3 separate regions of the Homo sapiens genome follow, and regions 1 and 2 are each linked to region 3. Evidence: fine-mapped expression QTL. A gene starts in region 3. Each other region holds a variant in brackets. All regions are shown on one strand. Distances are between the middles of the regions.

Region 1 (5,232 bases), 540 kb before region 3:
TTTTCCTTGGACATAATATAAAATCTATCAATACTCTTTTTAAATTTTTATTTCAAATTCCATTGGCAGTATATTATTTTCATTTATTTATTTACCTTTTATAAAATTATAGTAAGAACACTTAACATATTATCTACCCTCCTAACAAAATTTTAAATGCACAATATAGTATTGTTAACGATGGGCACAATGCTATTCAGCAGATCTCTAGAGCTCATTCATCTTTTAATTTAATGCAATTGATTAACTGGACTTCTTAACAAAGGAAAAGTTTCAGACTTGAAACTTACCCATGCAAAATCCATTAATGACTGCACTATGACTTGGTCGTATTTCCAAGGATTCAGGAGACATCTGCAGATCTCCTTCAATTTTATAATTTCATTAAAAACGGCATCATTTGAATTCTTAATTCTTTTGCTGAATAACTTCTGAAAATTTTTATAAAGTTTATATTTGAATAGGAACAGAAATCTGTACTGATTAAGACCTATACAACTTAAAACATAGCCTTTTCTTTGCACATGACTGCAAACACCACCAAAATATCAGAACACCCATGGTATGACTTGAGTGAGGTCTCAAAGGTCAAGGTATCTACTACTACTGTAAAGTTGAAACTTATGGCTCATTTGTCATTGACGTAATGTACTAACATAGGAGGCAAGGTTGCATTTGGGCTAACAGCTTGAGTTTTACAAATGTTAACTTTTATCCATGATATCAAAAGGTTAACTTTCAAAAAAAGTGAAACAACTTGAGAACAGCTCCATGTTATTCTTGGAGGCACAGGCCCATTCCATGAAGTGAAAATTCTCTTAACAGGAATAATAGCAATGATTTTACTTTTAAGAGGTCAGCACTAGAATCAGATCAGATACCTTTGCATTTCATTAATTGTCCTGTATTTCTGTAGCTTTAGGGTGCTATGTAATTTACCACTGTGAATGTTTGTTAAGTGGGACAATAATTATCCCAAAGATTAACCTTACTATGAATAATGCAGGTAACCTGGGGCATACATTAATTCTGTGACAAAGTTTTGACTTCTCCATATGATTCTATTTTCTAGAAGGCACAGAAGTGAAAATGTAAGTTAAACTCATCTCATTTTTTTTAAAAAAGTTTATAATATAAATAGTATATATTAATGGAAGAGAAATGAAATTTATATCCCTTAAACCTTCCTTAGTAAAATCCTTAAATATTATGTTTGGCCATTTTTCATGCATCTTTATCAACTGTAACATCTGGTTGCATATATTTATAAGTACAAAGATTTCTAATACTTAAACCAAATAAGTTGTCTTTCCAGACAGCTTATCTGGAAAGTTGTCTTTCCAGACAGCTTATCTGGAAAGTTGTCTTTCCAGACAATTTATCTTTTTTCATAAAAAGATAATGGTCTATGGTCTATAAAAATGTGTTTATTTCAATTACATAGAGAATCTAGGTATATCTAAATGGACCTATAAAAACATATGCTTATGAATTGTTTAAAAAATCTTGTGGGCATGCCCGGTGGCTCACGCCTGTAATCCCAGCACTTTGGGAGGCTGAGGAGGGTGGATCGCGAGGTCAGGAGATTGAGACCATCCTGGTTAACGTGGTGAAACCCTGTCTCTACTAAAAATACAAAAAATTAGCTGGACGTGGTGGCACGCGCCTGTAGTCCCAGCTACTCGGGAGGCTGAGGCAGCAGAATCACTTGAACCCAGGAGGCGGAGCTTGTAGTGAGCTGAGATCACGCCACTACACTCCAGCCTGGGCAAGAGAGCAAGACTCTGTCTAAAAAATAAATAAATAAATAAAAACATTGTATTAGTTTTTTCTGAATGACTTAATTCTAGTCTTCCAGGACTATATTTTCTCCTTCTGTTGCTCTTTTAACTGTGGCTTTGACCATGCACCCCTTCTGCCTCTAACCTCACACAATGGTTTTGTTAACATAGATATGTCATTAATATGGTTATAGGTGGCCTTTGTGAGTGTGTGTGGTGTGTGTGTGTGTGTGTGTGTGTGTGTTTACATCTTTATTTTTTTCTCATAAATAACTTTCATATTCTTTAAAAAAAAGGTACAAAAAATATCCCAAAAAGTCTCAAATTTTGGTGGTCCATCTGTGGCACTAATTAATTTATTCCTAGTAGATATGAACCAAACACTATACTAAAGTTTAAAATAAAATGTTTGGAGTTATCAAGGTCCATTTGAAAAACCAATCCACATAAGAAATTATTTTTATAAAGGCATGTTAAAAATGGCAAGGTCAAATATAACAAAATATTACAAACACATCACTTCCTAAAAATGCTATTGTTGCATATAATGAAAGGTAGCATTTTGTAGGATTGGAGGAGTCTGATTTGTTTATTCCCCTCTCCTCAACAAATCAGACCCCTCCAATCTTACAAAATACATAGCAAAGGGTCTAACATATAGCAAAAGGTCTACTATATATTAGAGGCTTAGAAGCTTAGGACTAGGTATCTAAATTAAGAGGAGTATCTCTAAGAAAGTGGGATAGTTGGGCTTTAGGTGCTTAGGTGATTGGCAGGGAGGTACCTATTGAGGAATTCAAAAGGAATCAGTAGATCCGATCTGTGATATAAGTGCAAAGGTTTGAAAGGACAACAACTTATTAAAACAAGGGTATAGACAGTGTTTCCTGACATTCTATGCAAGGAAAGCCACATAGAATATGTGTGGTAGATATTTATGGAATGGGATAAAGGAGAGAGTCTTGCAGGGTGAAGCATGGCCTAGATAAAAAAAAAAAATAAAGATGAAGGGTTTGCTAATTATTCCAACATCTCAAATCTTGGGGAGAAAGCGTAGGGTCAGCAAGTTAATGCTAACA[C/T]AGCAACATGTTATTGGGGGAAAGCAGATAATTTACAAAGTGCACAAATTCTGCTGACAGATATTTCTTTTTAGAAATCAGAAGATGTCTTGGCTGAAATATCCTATGATAAATCATGGGAGTTTGGAAAGAACAGTTGTCCAGGATGTCTTTGAGGACTATATTTGAAACTTGTATCACATAGATTACTTTATTTCTTGAGAACTCCTTGAATGATGCCTGATGGTAATGGAAAACCTCTCCGAGAGAGTAGGTGCAGGGAAACAGCTGGGGGCTACCCAAAGTCCTATGATATGAGAGGATAGGGGCAAGTAGCCCTTCTGGGGCTTCATTCTGAGAACTCCATCTGCACAGAAAGAGCCACCTCACCACCTTGCCCTTTGATTGTAGGCTATGCAATGTGATGTATGATTGATGAAATTGTGCTATTCTTTGCTCCATGCATCATAGGGAATCAAAGAGTCCAGCTGATCATGGCAACAAAACCTCTGCTTACCACAAGTGAACTTGCATCACTAAGAAGCAACCTATGTCTAATGACCTTCAGAGTGTCTACCCCCAGTGGTAAATTACAGAAGTAATCAATAACATAGTAAAACTGTCTAGTCTAGTATATCAGAGCGACACTGAATTAATAGTTGCTCTTTATTGATTATCCTATCATGAAAACGGAGAATTTGGGAAATAACTGACTGTCTTAGTTCCAGTCAAGTTATTGAGAAATGAAAAGTATAAAGCACTCCAGCTAACTGGGCCTCAAATATAAATCTTTTCCAAGGTGCACTCTATTACTCACAGCTTGTCAGTCGTATCTCAGCTGAAGGATTTATGCAATGTCTTCTTGGCACAGGGGCAATCTACTATAATTACCTACGTGCAGAATTGCTCTCAAATAGCATAAATGGTGGGTGACAGTTATGAATCCCAATTAGTATGGTCGCCAATCATTCAACGAGTAAATTGATCTGTATTTTATCTGTATACCAGCACATCAGAACCTGACTTAGAACAATAGTATAGATTTATCCATAAAGGCTGGTTAGGTCATTTTTTAATTTGCATAATATTTTTTGAAAAACCTAATTTTCTTTCCTTAAAGGTGACAGCCAAGTCAAGCATAACCTTTTATTTTAAAGTTCCCTGCCAGTCCATAAATCCCACTCTACTGCATGCTTTGTAACTCTCAGTAGCTTCTTTCTCCTTCACCTGCCTGTTGTTCCAGGATCTTCTGTATCCATGCTTACAGCTCCATTCTGGGCAGACAACCTTATATCCCTAGAACCTTGCTTTTACACTGACCACAGGTCAAGAAGCATTTATTGATTCATATAATCAGTTGCAACTCTGACCGAGGGATTCCTGAGAGAATGATCATTATGCTTCCAATAGCAGACATCAGGAAATACACTATCAACGAAATTTCCTGGTTTTGGAGGCTGTAGGATTTCAGAACTGCATTAGACTGTTTCTAATTTCTAAAGACAAAGAGGAAGAATATTAATTTTCTTATTGTTTGGCCACCATGATAATAGCATTCTGTTTTTAAAGGAAATTCTGTCATTTGTGACAACATGGATGAACCTTACATTAAGTGAAATAAGCCAGGGACAGAAAGACAAATATCACAGAATCTCACTTATGTGTGGGGTGTAAAAAATCAAACTTTCAGAGATTGAGAGTAGAACAGTGATTACCAGAGGCTGACGGGAGGAAGGGGAAAAGGAGAGTCAATGGAGAAAGGAAAGACACTGGTGAAAATGTACGAAGTTTTAGTTAGATGGGAGGAATGACTTCTGGTGTTCTATTGGACAGATGGCAACTATGGTTAATAATAATGTATATTTCCAAAAAGCTAAAAGAGTGGATTTTAAATGTTCTCATCACAAAAAAATGATAGTATTTCAGATGACTAATGTGTTAATTATGCTTATTTGATTATTCTACAGTACATACATATATTGAAAATTACACTGTACCCCATAAATATATCTAATTAATAATTTTTCATTAAAAATAAAAAATAGCAGCCTGTGCAACATAGCAATACCCTGTCTCTACAAACAATAATTTTAAAAAATTAGCCCGGTGTGGTGGTGCATGCCTGTAGTCCTAGCTGAGGTAGGAGGATCACTTGAGTCTAGGAGCTCTAGGTTGCAGGGAGCTATGATTGCACCACTGCACTGCAGCCTGGGCACCAGAGCAAGATGACCCTGTCTCTATTTAAAAATTTTAAAACTAAAAAGCAAAGCTTAACAAATTATTTTTCACAGGTATAGCAGGAGATAGGGGTGGGGTAGGAGGGAGAAGACTTAATTGTCTTAAGCATGACACAGACTTCTGAAAAATAAATTTCCTGCAAACTGAAGATGTGC
Region 2 (5,232 bases), 540 kb before region 3:
CTGGCTGGCAAATTGGTCTATACATATCTGGAACAGTCTTCATAGTTTTGAGTGTCCCTGAATGTGGTGACTTTTCTAACTGGCATGCCCCATGTCATATACAATGGCAGCTATGCCCACGGATCTGTCAGAAGTATTGGTTCCATTGGAGGCATGAGGCATCTAAGCCAAAGCAGTTCTTCTGACTGTCTGATCTCAACATGTCTTCTTACACCTGAACTGTCTGCTGCATGGCAAAATGATGTCTATTGGGCACTACGTACTGCTATAAAATCTCTCCCTTAAAAGAAGATTTTAAGTTGCTCTGCTGGCAAGTTGTACTTTCATCCCATTCCTTTTTGATGAATCTGATGCCAGTATAGCCAATGGCAATCTCTTGTAAGACTCAATGCTTGTTATTAAAGTCTAAACAGCAGAGACCCTAGTGGGTGAGGCAGGAGTGGTAACGGTTTGATGGCTATGAAAATCACAGATAATATTTTGAAAAGGAGTTGCCAAATCAAAGGGCATAGACTGAACCCGTGAAACGTAGGTGAGAAAACCATGGGCTCAAGTACTGATTAGCTAAGGAATTTTGCAGAGAAGCAACTTAAAACTACACAGGAACCCCTACAGTCACATACCATAAGACTGAGTGAGGCAGAAGGATGAGGAATGGACCATTTTAAATCTACTTGGAAAGATTTTGGGGTACGTAAGCTACATCAAAAAAAAAATCAGCTGCATACTGAAGCTGAATAGACATTCCCTGTCTTTTTCATCATCAATTTCCAGAGCCCAGAATAGGATATGTCTCAATGGGGTCTCTGAGATGCTTATTGATGAACCATCTCTAAGATTATGACATATATGCCTTCATGTTAACTTATTTAATTTATACGTAAAGTTGTTACTCAGAATATAACATTGTATTATTAAAGAGAGTTCCTGAAAAAGTGAATCCATCATGCAGGCTTTATTCATGACTTTTACTAATTCTGTCATTAAGTGGCAGTATTACTAACTAGAGTGGCATTTTGCTTTTTCTTTAAACAATCTCCATTTCTTATTCTCTCCTAGTTTTTCTTTTTTCTTTTTGCTGAATTCTTAACAGAAGTGCCTTCCTTGTGAGGATAAGCAGTGTCCTGTCATAACCTACTATATATTGGAAAAAACTACAGAGAAAATGTCCCACCGGGAACATGGTAGAGAACAAGACCTTTGAGTAGAAAGAATTCTGGTTTTTTAGATGATAACAACTTTTCCTAGCACTTTATCCATCCTTCAAAGCAGCATCCATAATAAAAATGGACCACAGAAGGGAGTTGAAAACTCCAGATTCTGACCAGAACAATTCCTTAGAATGATAGTGCATCTGGGCACTTGGCCCTCAGGCTCCAGGAGACAGGGCTCTTCATCTGAGGACCGAGGATAAGGATGTGTCTGGCAAGACCCTGTGCAGGACCAACATTCTGAATTTCATTACTCTTCCTCCACACCCCAGCTTCTATCAGGACAGCATCCTTCCATTTGCTTTGCCTTTGATTTCTTTCCACGTAAAAAATTATAGGACTTTCCTAACCAAACTTCTTTTTTTCTTGTTTCTCTTCCTTGTGTATATATCGCCTTTTAATATTTCTGAAGTACACCTGTTTTTAAAACTCTTCCTCTCAATGATGCCTCTCTGCTCATCACAAGATGTCCAAAGTTAGATTGTCCCACTGAAATCCTTCTTTCTATCCTTGAAAACTCCATGTAATGCATGAAATCCATATTTAATACAAGGTAGGAGTGACCAAGCAGGAGACAACAGGGCTTTAGCTGTTGCAAACCCAAGTGAGCACACTTAGGTCTATTGTTCAATTTAATAGTCAATGACCCTTCCTGACAGAGGGTGATGTGTTTTCTCACAGACATCTGTAAACCTAACCAATGCCGATATCTTCATAGATATGAACAAAAAATGCATACAGAAGCAATAAATCATCCTACAGTTATCTAATATTAGTTGATGCCATTACTTTTCTTTATCATCAGTGACATTTTATTACTATTTTTGTTGCTTAATTCTCAAAAGTGCACTGAGCCTATACTACATAAAAGGTAATGCATTAAGGGCTATGGGCCAAAAGCATATTGTCAGATATGATATGGAAATTCTTCTTCCAAACGCTTCAAAAATTATAATTTGTGAGTCACTGAACCAAGCAGAACTGTGGTTTTGGCAACCTGGATATACACTCCCACCACAGTGCTAATCTTCAGCAGGCAGAACAAGGTACAATGAACTCTGAACTTTTGTTATTAAAACTAATCTAAGTTTGATTCCCCACAGGCTTAAAATTTATAGGAGAAGAAACATTTTCATGTTCCTTATTTGGTCATTTAAATATTATGATGGTTTCTCTTTAGTGATTCACATTCCTTTCCTATCAACTGTGGATCTCCTATGCTTGACTTTTTTTATTATTATTATACTTTAAGTTTTAGGGTACATGTGCACATTGTGCAGGTTAGTTACATATGTATACATGTGCCATGCTGGTGCACTGCACCCACTAACTCGTCATCTAGCATTAGGTATTTACTTTATTTTAAAATGGCAAATGAGGAAACAAACAAAAGGGGACTGCACAGCTTGTTGTGAACCAAGACAAAGAACTTGTAATCCTGGGACTCCTCAAAGCTCACCAAATTCCATTCAACCCTTCATAAAGCTAACCTGCAGAGTGCACTCCCCGACACGTGTGAGACAAATGAGATGCGATGAGAGATGAAGCCAAAAAAGCAGCACTCCCCTGTGTCTTCAATTAGCCACGGAGTGAAAATGAGACAAACAGTCATGTATAATTTAGAGGCTTGCTCTCCGGTTCTTCCTGCCGTGGGAAGCCTTTCACCGAGGAAGGAAGCGTGATCCAGTAAAGTGCTCAGGCTTGGGAGTGGGCCTTGT[T/G]GGGTTGTGTTTCCAGTTAGTTCACTGATGTACTTTGTGACCTTGTATGCAACTTAATTTCTATCAAAGTGGCTGAAACAACTTGCTTTTAAAGATGACTTGTTTGCTTATTCTGGGGAGGGGCAATGCCAGCAGTCCTTCAGTGTATGTGTTATCAATATGTTTGGCACAGAACAGACTGAATGAGCAAATGGCTTGATCTGTGAGACAATGCAGATTACTGAGACTGTAGGATAATGCAACAAGGAGTGCTGGATGATGTTACAAAGCACATCCTCTGCTACCTAGAGGGTTACGTTACGTTTTATGATTTCATCAGTCAACAAATTGAGAACCATCCTAAGGATGAAAAAAAAAACTACTTAAGTAAGTGCCAAATAAGTCTGTAACCTTATTTGACCAAGAAAGTATGGGGGAGAAAAGGATTTATTTCTAGAGGAAGTGGGTCTTGGTCTAATATTAGCCTTAAGTTGAAGTGCTGAGAACTAGATAGAGAGTTGCAGGGTTGATGTCTGCAAGCAAATTTCAAAAAGCAGTTGCTGGGTCTGGGAATAGACACTACTGAGGAAGAAATCATTACAGTCCATAGAAGAATCCAGAAAGAAGGTGGGTAGAATCCCTCTCCTATCATGGGAAGTGTGGATAAGCCTTTCTACCTCCACAAAGCTTCTGAGGCACAGCCCCTTTGAGTCAGAGAGAGAAAGTCCAGTTAGCACACTAGCTAAGAGGGCCTGTCTTGGAAGAAGATGATATAACACATCACAGCTCAAAGAAATGGTGGCATGCCTCAGACCACTGCCGGCTTAGGAGACCAGTGAGAAACTTCCTTTACCAAAGATTAGTATTCCAGGAAGCCAAGAAGAAAATAAATACCTTTGGACCTAAAGAGAAATAATATGTAACATTCATTGAACACTTAGTATCAGGCATTACATTAAGTGCTTTACATATTTTATCTCATTTAATTCTAAAACCAATGTTATGAGATTGTTGCTCTCATTATATGTAATAAACCACGCAATAACTAAAAAATATGCAAAAATAAAAATAGATAAGTAACATAACTATTTTATACCCATAAAAGTGGGGGTTGTATGGTTTTTTAGAATAATTAGGATGGAAAGATGGAAAGCAGACAGATGCATGCACTATTTTGGCCCTCATCTTCAACCCTAAATAGGGTAACTAAATGTCTCAATTTACTCAGAAGTATTCAGGCTTTAGCACACAGCTCAGGAAATCCTTCGTTCCTTGGCAAACCATAATGGTTGGTGATCCCATTCCCCCAACTACTAAATTTTGAACTACTTGGCAAATAAATACAGAGATTTAAGCCCCAGTATGTCTGGAGTCAAGTCAAAGCATGTTTTGCTTTAACAATTTTCCAGGTGATGCTGGTGCCTACCAAGATTGGAAAAACACTGACTGCAGCTGAAAGAATACAGGTAAAGCATGAATCATCCTTCCCAGGCCTGCATTTATTTAGAGGTTGTGTGTGCAAGCCAACTTCTGCCTTCCACTTAATTCCCATCTGGTTGAGGTGCCAAGCCACCCATAAAATAACTATAGATTGAAAGCAAAGCAAAGCAAGTGTGCAAGCACAAAGAGAAAAGTTAATTAAAAATATGGAAGGGGTAAGAGTGTAGAAATAAGGTGAATGAATGGATATCAGGAGAAGAGGAGTGCAAGAGGAAAGCAGTGCCTGGGTTTGGAGGTTTGGAAGGGAAAGCTGTGGAGAAAGGTGATCCTCCCAGACTCTGCGCACATCTTCTCCCTGCTGCTTTTTGGGGCTGTCTTTTTTTTTTTTTTTGTCACGTGCAGCAGCCACTCACAGCTTGTGTTTCTCTGAAACTTGGATCATTTTACCAGCTATTTAATAAGACTAAATAAATGGTGTCAGCATCAGAAAGCATTGCACATTTTGTTTAGAGACGTGTACATTCCTTCTTGCTATTAAACTGTGATAACTTTTGGCAAGAATATTACTTTGCTCTGTCTTCTCTGAGAAGAAATTTTCCTTCTGTTCTCACATGGCCATTGAAGAAACAAAGACTACCATATTTAATGGAAGACAAAAGGGCATGCATTTGGGAAAATATTGACTTAGAAAACCTTATCCCTGAGAAAAAGATTGTAAGGGAATGAGCCGATGAAAAATCCCATGTGATTTACAGAATTTAGAAACTTCTTTTTTTGCTAATGTTAATTTATCACTTAAAATTGACCCAGAACATTAAATCAATACCAATTTTAGCTAGCCACTATGTTTTTGGAAATTAGAGTTTAAATCCCACTTTTGTTAA
Region 3 (5,232 bases):
TACCAGCATCAAAGGACACAAGGCTTAAAGCAAAGTTAACAGTATGCCCTTACTCATGGAAAGTAGGTGAGTTTAAAAAAAAAAAAGTGCACACATTTTAGAAATTCATAGCTAATAAGCAAACACTGTAATTGTAAAAAGGTGGGGAGGAAACCAAAAACAAAAACAAAAACCTCTTTAGTTAAATATCCACCGAAGAATTTACATGAACCCCTGGGAATGTTCTCAACAAACATTCATGGTGACTACAGAAATTGTTTTACACTGAAAATCTTCACTTTGATATTAAAGAGATGTGCCTGATGCTGAGGATGAACTCTAGTCTCCTGAGAGTCCCATTATCCTCTAAAGAATACCGAAGCAATTTAAAAATACCTAACTATTTTCTTCTTTGAGACATCTTATCTGAAATCATGTTGGGAAATATCTTGTGTGCTTAAAAGATACCGTTTGAAAAAGCCCAGATTAAAGGAGAAAAAGTTCCTAGAAGAAGTGATCCATACTATAAACCTTTTAAAAAGTTGAATTCCCTGAGATTTGGGGAGGGAAAAAAAAAAGCGAAGCTGATCCTTATCAATTAATTAAAAAGAATGAAATAACAGTAGACAAAGGAGAAGGAGAGTTAAGAAACTTAAGGAGCTGTGGGGACAGTCGCTCTCTATTCATTGATTAACAAATTAAGGAGTTCTGGAAAAGAAGGAAGAAGTAACAAGGATAGAAAAGTAGGCTTATAATTCACCACAGATTCTAACTTAGACTCAGCAAAGGGAATGTCTGGCTCTGAACTGAAAAAGCTCCTTCTATATAATGAGCGTGGTAATTTGCGCCTCTTTTTTTCCCCCTTTGCCAATGCTCAAATTTATTTAAATGTGTTCATTTCAGTGTAAGTAAAAACCCTCACTTCTACAGCTTGAAAATCATAAGAAAATAGTAATTCCTCAACGTATCGAAACTGTGATGTTCTAAGATATCTGCAAAATGCTTTTCATCCATCCACCAGTTATTTGGCAAAAAGCAGACAGAGGCTGGTGGAAATTCAGCGTTTTGACTTGACGATCTGAGGTCACTAAGGACTTCAGCTGCCCGGTTTGAGCAGCCCGCGCCCTCGCAGCATCTCCTGGCCTCCCTCGGCCTCTCTCAGTTCTGTTCTTTAGCAGCCAAAGGATTATCTCTCCCCGACACGTTTCATTCACAGAGCCCCAGAGAAGCTCGGATTCGGTTGGAGCTAAGAGCCGGAAAACAAGCACCCAGACTGCCGCGCAAGTTGTCGGAGACCAAGTGCTACACACACTGGCGCCGAGAGAAAGGGTGGGCGCTCTCAAGCTCTTGGTGGAGCAATGCCAGTGGCCGGGCATGCGGGGGACACGGGGCCCCCGAACCCGGACCCGAATCCCCAGCTGAGCCACCCGCTAAAGTTGGCTGTTCGCTGGCAGACGAGGCCGGCTCCAGACCGGGTGGCAGGGTGTCCCCGGGCCCTGAGTGGCCAACAGCAACTGGGGAAGCACTGAGGAACCCTAACGGGAAAGCCCGCCCCACATCTGAAACAGGCAGCCCGTGAAGTCCCCAAACCAGCCTTGAAACGCCGGCGTCCAGAGGCCAGGTCCCCGGCGAGGGTCCCTCCCAGCCTTGCCCGCCCCCGGCCCGAGCGCCGGGCGCTCTGTCGCCCGAAGGACGGATAGGGGAGAGAGGGGCTGGGGGAGCCCTCCGCGTCTCTCCACCGCCCCTGCCGGCGCAAGGGCGGGAGTGGAGAAGGCGCCACTCAGACTGTGGCGCTGGGCAAACTGCGGTCGCAGTTCTTCCAAGTTTGCCCGAACCAGAACGCGGAGTGAGCGCCCGGCTCGGCTCTCCGTCTGCGCCTTGCAGCCGCCCCGGAGTGACCCGGGCTCCCTGGCCAGCCGGGCCTGAGCCATCAACTAAGGGGTAGAAGGGCGCGAGAGCAGCGGGAGGCGGGAGCCAGGGTGCTCCCGCGTGTGCACACAATGAGGCGGCGGAGACGCACACCTTCCCCCGCCGAAGAAGCCGCAGGAGCATCCGCCGCCCAACACGGAGACGCGGAGTCCCATAGCGGTGGCAGAAAGTGAGCACCAACTCAGCAACAGGGGGAAGGAAGGGGACGCCGGGCGGCCAGTGGGACGTGCGGCAGCCGAGGGCTGCAGCCTGCCCCTGCAGCGCGCCCGCGCTTACCTGCGATCTCCTGGTAGGGGATGTCCGCCAGGCTGAATCCCTTGGCACCGTACGCCTGGCGGACCTCTCCGCAGCTCCGAGCCTTCACATCCGCCCCGGCGGGGAGGGAGAGCAGCAGCCCCAAGAGGGGAAGAATCACAGCCCCGATCCAAGAAGGCATGGTGCAACATACAAATCCAGCTCGGTAAACCCCACGGCCGGTGCGCTCTTCACCTTGCCCCTCAAGCCGAAAGCCCGCCAGAGGCAGCGGCGCGCTCCTCGCCGCTGCCCAGCGTCACCCCCTTCTGCCAGCCGAGGGGACGAGCAGCGCAGCCCTCTGGACTGCGCTCAGCAAACTTTTATAAGCCAGATGGACGATGGCAAGCCAACAAGGGCTGGCTGGGAAGGCTGCTGCCTTGCTCCTCTAGCCCCCAGATGGAAACGGTGCAATCAAAACGAGGAAGAGAAGGAAAAGAAGTGTTTAAAAAACCACCATGGGGGTTCAGAGCTGCAATCCGAGTTCCGAGCCGCAGAATCCTGGAGCGCTGCGGGCTCGGCTCGCCGGAGTGTGCGGCAAAGGTGGGAGCGCGCGCCGGCTCCCCCGGGAGGGAGATGGACAAGCGAGAGCGAGTGTGTATGCGCGCGTGTGTCTGTTGGTGTGAGCTCGAGGTTCTTGGGGATGTGTGTGCGTGGAGGTATGTGTTGGGGATATACGAGATCTAGGGGAAACCTCAGCTTAACACAGGCTGTGGGAGCCTGTGAGAGTCCTCCTGAAATAGGAAGAGAGAAATCCTGGAGACAGTCACTGGAGGCAAGAGGGAAGGAGAAAGGAGGGGGGAGAAAGAAACGTGCTACACATTGCACAGCCGAAATTCACAGGCCGAGTCAAAGGCAAAACCTGGACTGGATCTCTTCCTAGTCGGTAGAAAGGGGAAAAAAAGAAAAAGAAACGTACCTATTTTCTTATTCACTTCACATCCTTTATACCGATCTGAAATGACATCAATAAACAATCTAGAAAGACAAGGTAATTTTAAGTCATTAACATGTTATTAAGCTGTATTTTTATGGAGGTAAAGGATAACGCAGTTCCAATTGTTGCTCTTAATATGTGTCCCTGACCTACTGAAACACAAAGCCAGAGTGGAAATAGTCATAGACGGGAGTTCATGGGTGGCAGAGCACAATCACGGCTCTAACTAGTTGCCTAATTTCTGTTTGACTTTGTTTTTTTCTAAAGGCACACATTACAGACTGGTAGTTCTTAATTTTTAAAGGTTTGGTTCTAGACTCAACAATTTCCCCTTTTTTTATTTCAAATATCTCATAGCCTTCGATCAGAAATCATTATGCTTAGGTTTCTAATGTGTGGAGGATCGGGAAAGCTAACAACCAGACCACAGAAGCAACAAGAAAAGGAGAGCACAAGGGTCAGAGGTGCATAAAGGGACATAATGGGGGAAGGGAGGTGATTCCTTCCCTCTCACTAGATGCCCTCACATAGTAGACTTAACATTTTCTTCCAAGTTAACATAATTCTCAAGTGGAGAATCAATCCAATTTCTTCTTCCTGTCTCCATTTACACTGATGTTCTGTGAACGGGATAAAAGTGAAAATTCAGGTTTGCCTAATTGACTTTGTTATGCTAATGGACGCACTAAAGTCAGCTGGCAGAAGTGTGTGTTGAAACCCAGAGCTCCTGAAACTACTAAGATAGTTTAATGAAAACCAAGACAAAATAATAATAATAATAGTGTTTATTCACTTACGTGGCTATGTGTCATAGGTCAGCACATTATTCACAAACTACTACAAGGTAATGCACAGTTTTGTGGAGCTCACCTATGAAGCTACACATGAAGATGTTTTCCTGATGATGATATGAATGACCAGAATGACTCATGAAGTTTAAATCTTTGAGTTTGTCATTATCATCACAACATATTAGGTACATTGTCTTCCTCTCTTTAATAAATTCCCCCTCTCCTAACCACCAAAAAGACTCTCAAGATTCAACCTCATTTAACCTTTCCAAACGCTTTAAAAATGAAGTCGACTTATTTACAGAGCCACTTTGTCTTCTTCAAACTCATAGGTCAAGACAAAACAAAACCAAAAAAAAAAAAAACAAAACAAAACAAAAAAAAAAACTCCATAGCTAAATCTTTCTGAAAACGCAACACACTTAACTTTTTTTCTCTTAAAATTTTAGCACAGTTTTTTGCTTTCACAATATTTATGCTAACTGGCAGATCTTAAATCACTGAACTTATTTTCCCTCAAGTCGGAAATCAAGATAAAATATATTCTGGTTATGTTTGTGGACAAACGGTGAGGTTGATAGGCTCAGGAATTGCAGTCAAGTTATTACTTCTGTCATATTTGACAACGTGACTTCCTTCAAACTTCTCTTTGTATCATAGTAAAGCATTATGCACTCCAGAGGAAGAGGGTAAAAACACACACTTCCTGTCCTACCACCTTATCCTGGGACTCATTGTAATTTACCCTGACTCAGTATAGCAGATAATTCATTATTTTAAATGGAGGTAAAGGAAGAATGGGTAAAAGCATAGTATATGTGGTTTTAAATTATTTGAAGATCAGCTAATTGTTAAGTATTGAATGAGCACTCAATACAACTTTATAGCACTAGACTATTGCACACCGTCCCTATACTTATAAAATGATCTTAGGATTTGTGGCAAAGATATTACATGAGACGAATGACTAAATAGATTAGTTTAATTCCATCAGGAGAGTCAAATAGTTTAGGGTAGGTTTGTGAACTCAAGTCAGACCAAAGAATTAGATAACTTGCTTTACTGGTGACCTTAACCCTGCCTGGTCCATTTGTTGAGTAATGTCACACTGTTTGCAGTGGTGTAAGAGACAAAGTCAAACATTCCAGTTAACACTGAGAGCCACAGCAGGAGCCTAGACAAGGGATTGGAATGAGAATGGAATGTTATGGAAGTTCCTGGAAGAGGCCTGACCAGACAGGAGAGAGGTCATATGGAGGAGCAGGCATCTGGTTTAGACAAAAAGGTCAGCTAATGGCTGGAATC

Direction of the effects. Alleles are on the strand shown, and positions count from the first base shown. SD is a standard deviation of normalised expression in the study named. Not every link is listed here.
With allele T in place of C in region 1, the expression in aorta of the gene that starts at base 2,994 in region 3 is higher (moderate effect, 0.72 SD a copy in GTEx).

Evidence for each region. PIP is the estimated chance that this variant, and not a neighbour inherited with it, causes the effect.
Region 1: its variant is the best candidate, but not a certain one, in a credible set for the expression of GPC6 in aorta (GTEx, PIP 0.69).
Region 2: its variant is the best candidate, but not a certain one, in a credible set for the expression of GPC6 in atrial appendage (GTEx, PIP 0.82).

What each region holds. Positions count from the first base shown.
Region 1 is chr13:93,761,377-93,766,608 of GRCh38, reverse strand. The region is part of intron 2 of GPC6 (glypican 6); the gene reads right to left. Among named protein-coding and RNA genes, the nearest start is that of GPC6-AS2, 94 kb to the left of the region's middle. The variant C/T (reference allele first, on the strand shown) is at 2,861.
Region 2 is chr13:93,768,941-93,774,172 of GRCh38, reverse strand. The region is part of intron 2 of GPC6 (glypican 6); the gene reads right to left. Among named protein-coding and RNA genes, the nearest start is that of GPC6-AS2, 87 kb to the left of the region's middle. The variant T/G (reference allele first, on the strand shown) is at 2,930.
Region 3 is chr13:93,224,569-93,229,800 of GRCh38, reverse strand. It overlaps GPC6 (glypican 6), which reads right to left and starts at 2,994. Exons shown (of 9, transcript NM_005708.5): 1 at 2,185-2,994. The coding sequence starts at 2,344. RefSeq lists a silencer at 1,211-1,505 and enhancers at 1,559-2,401, 4,808-5,232.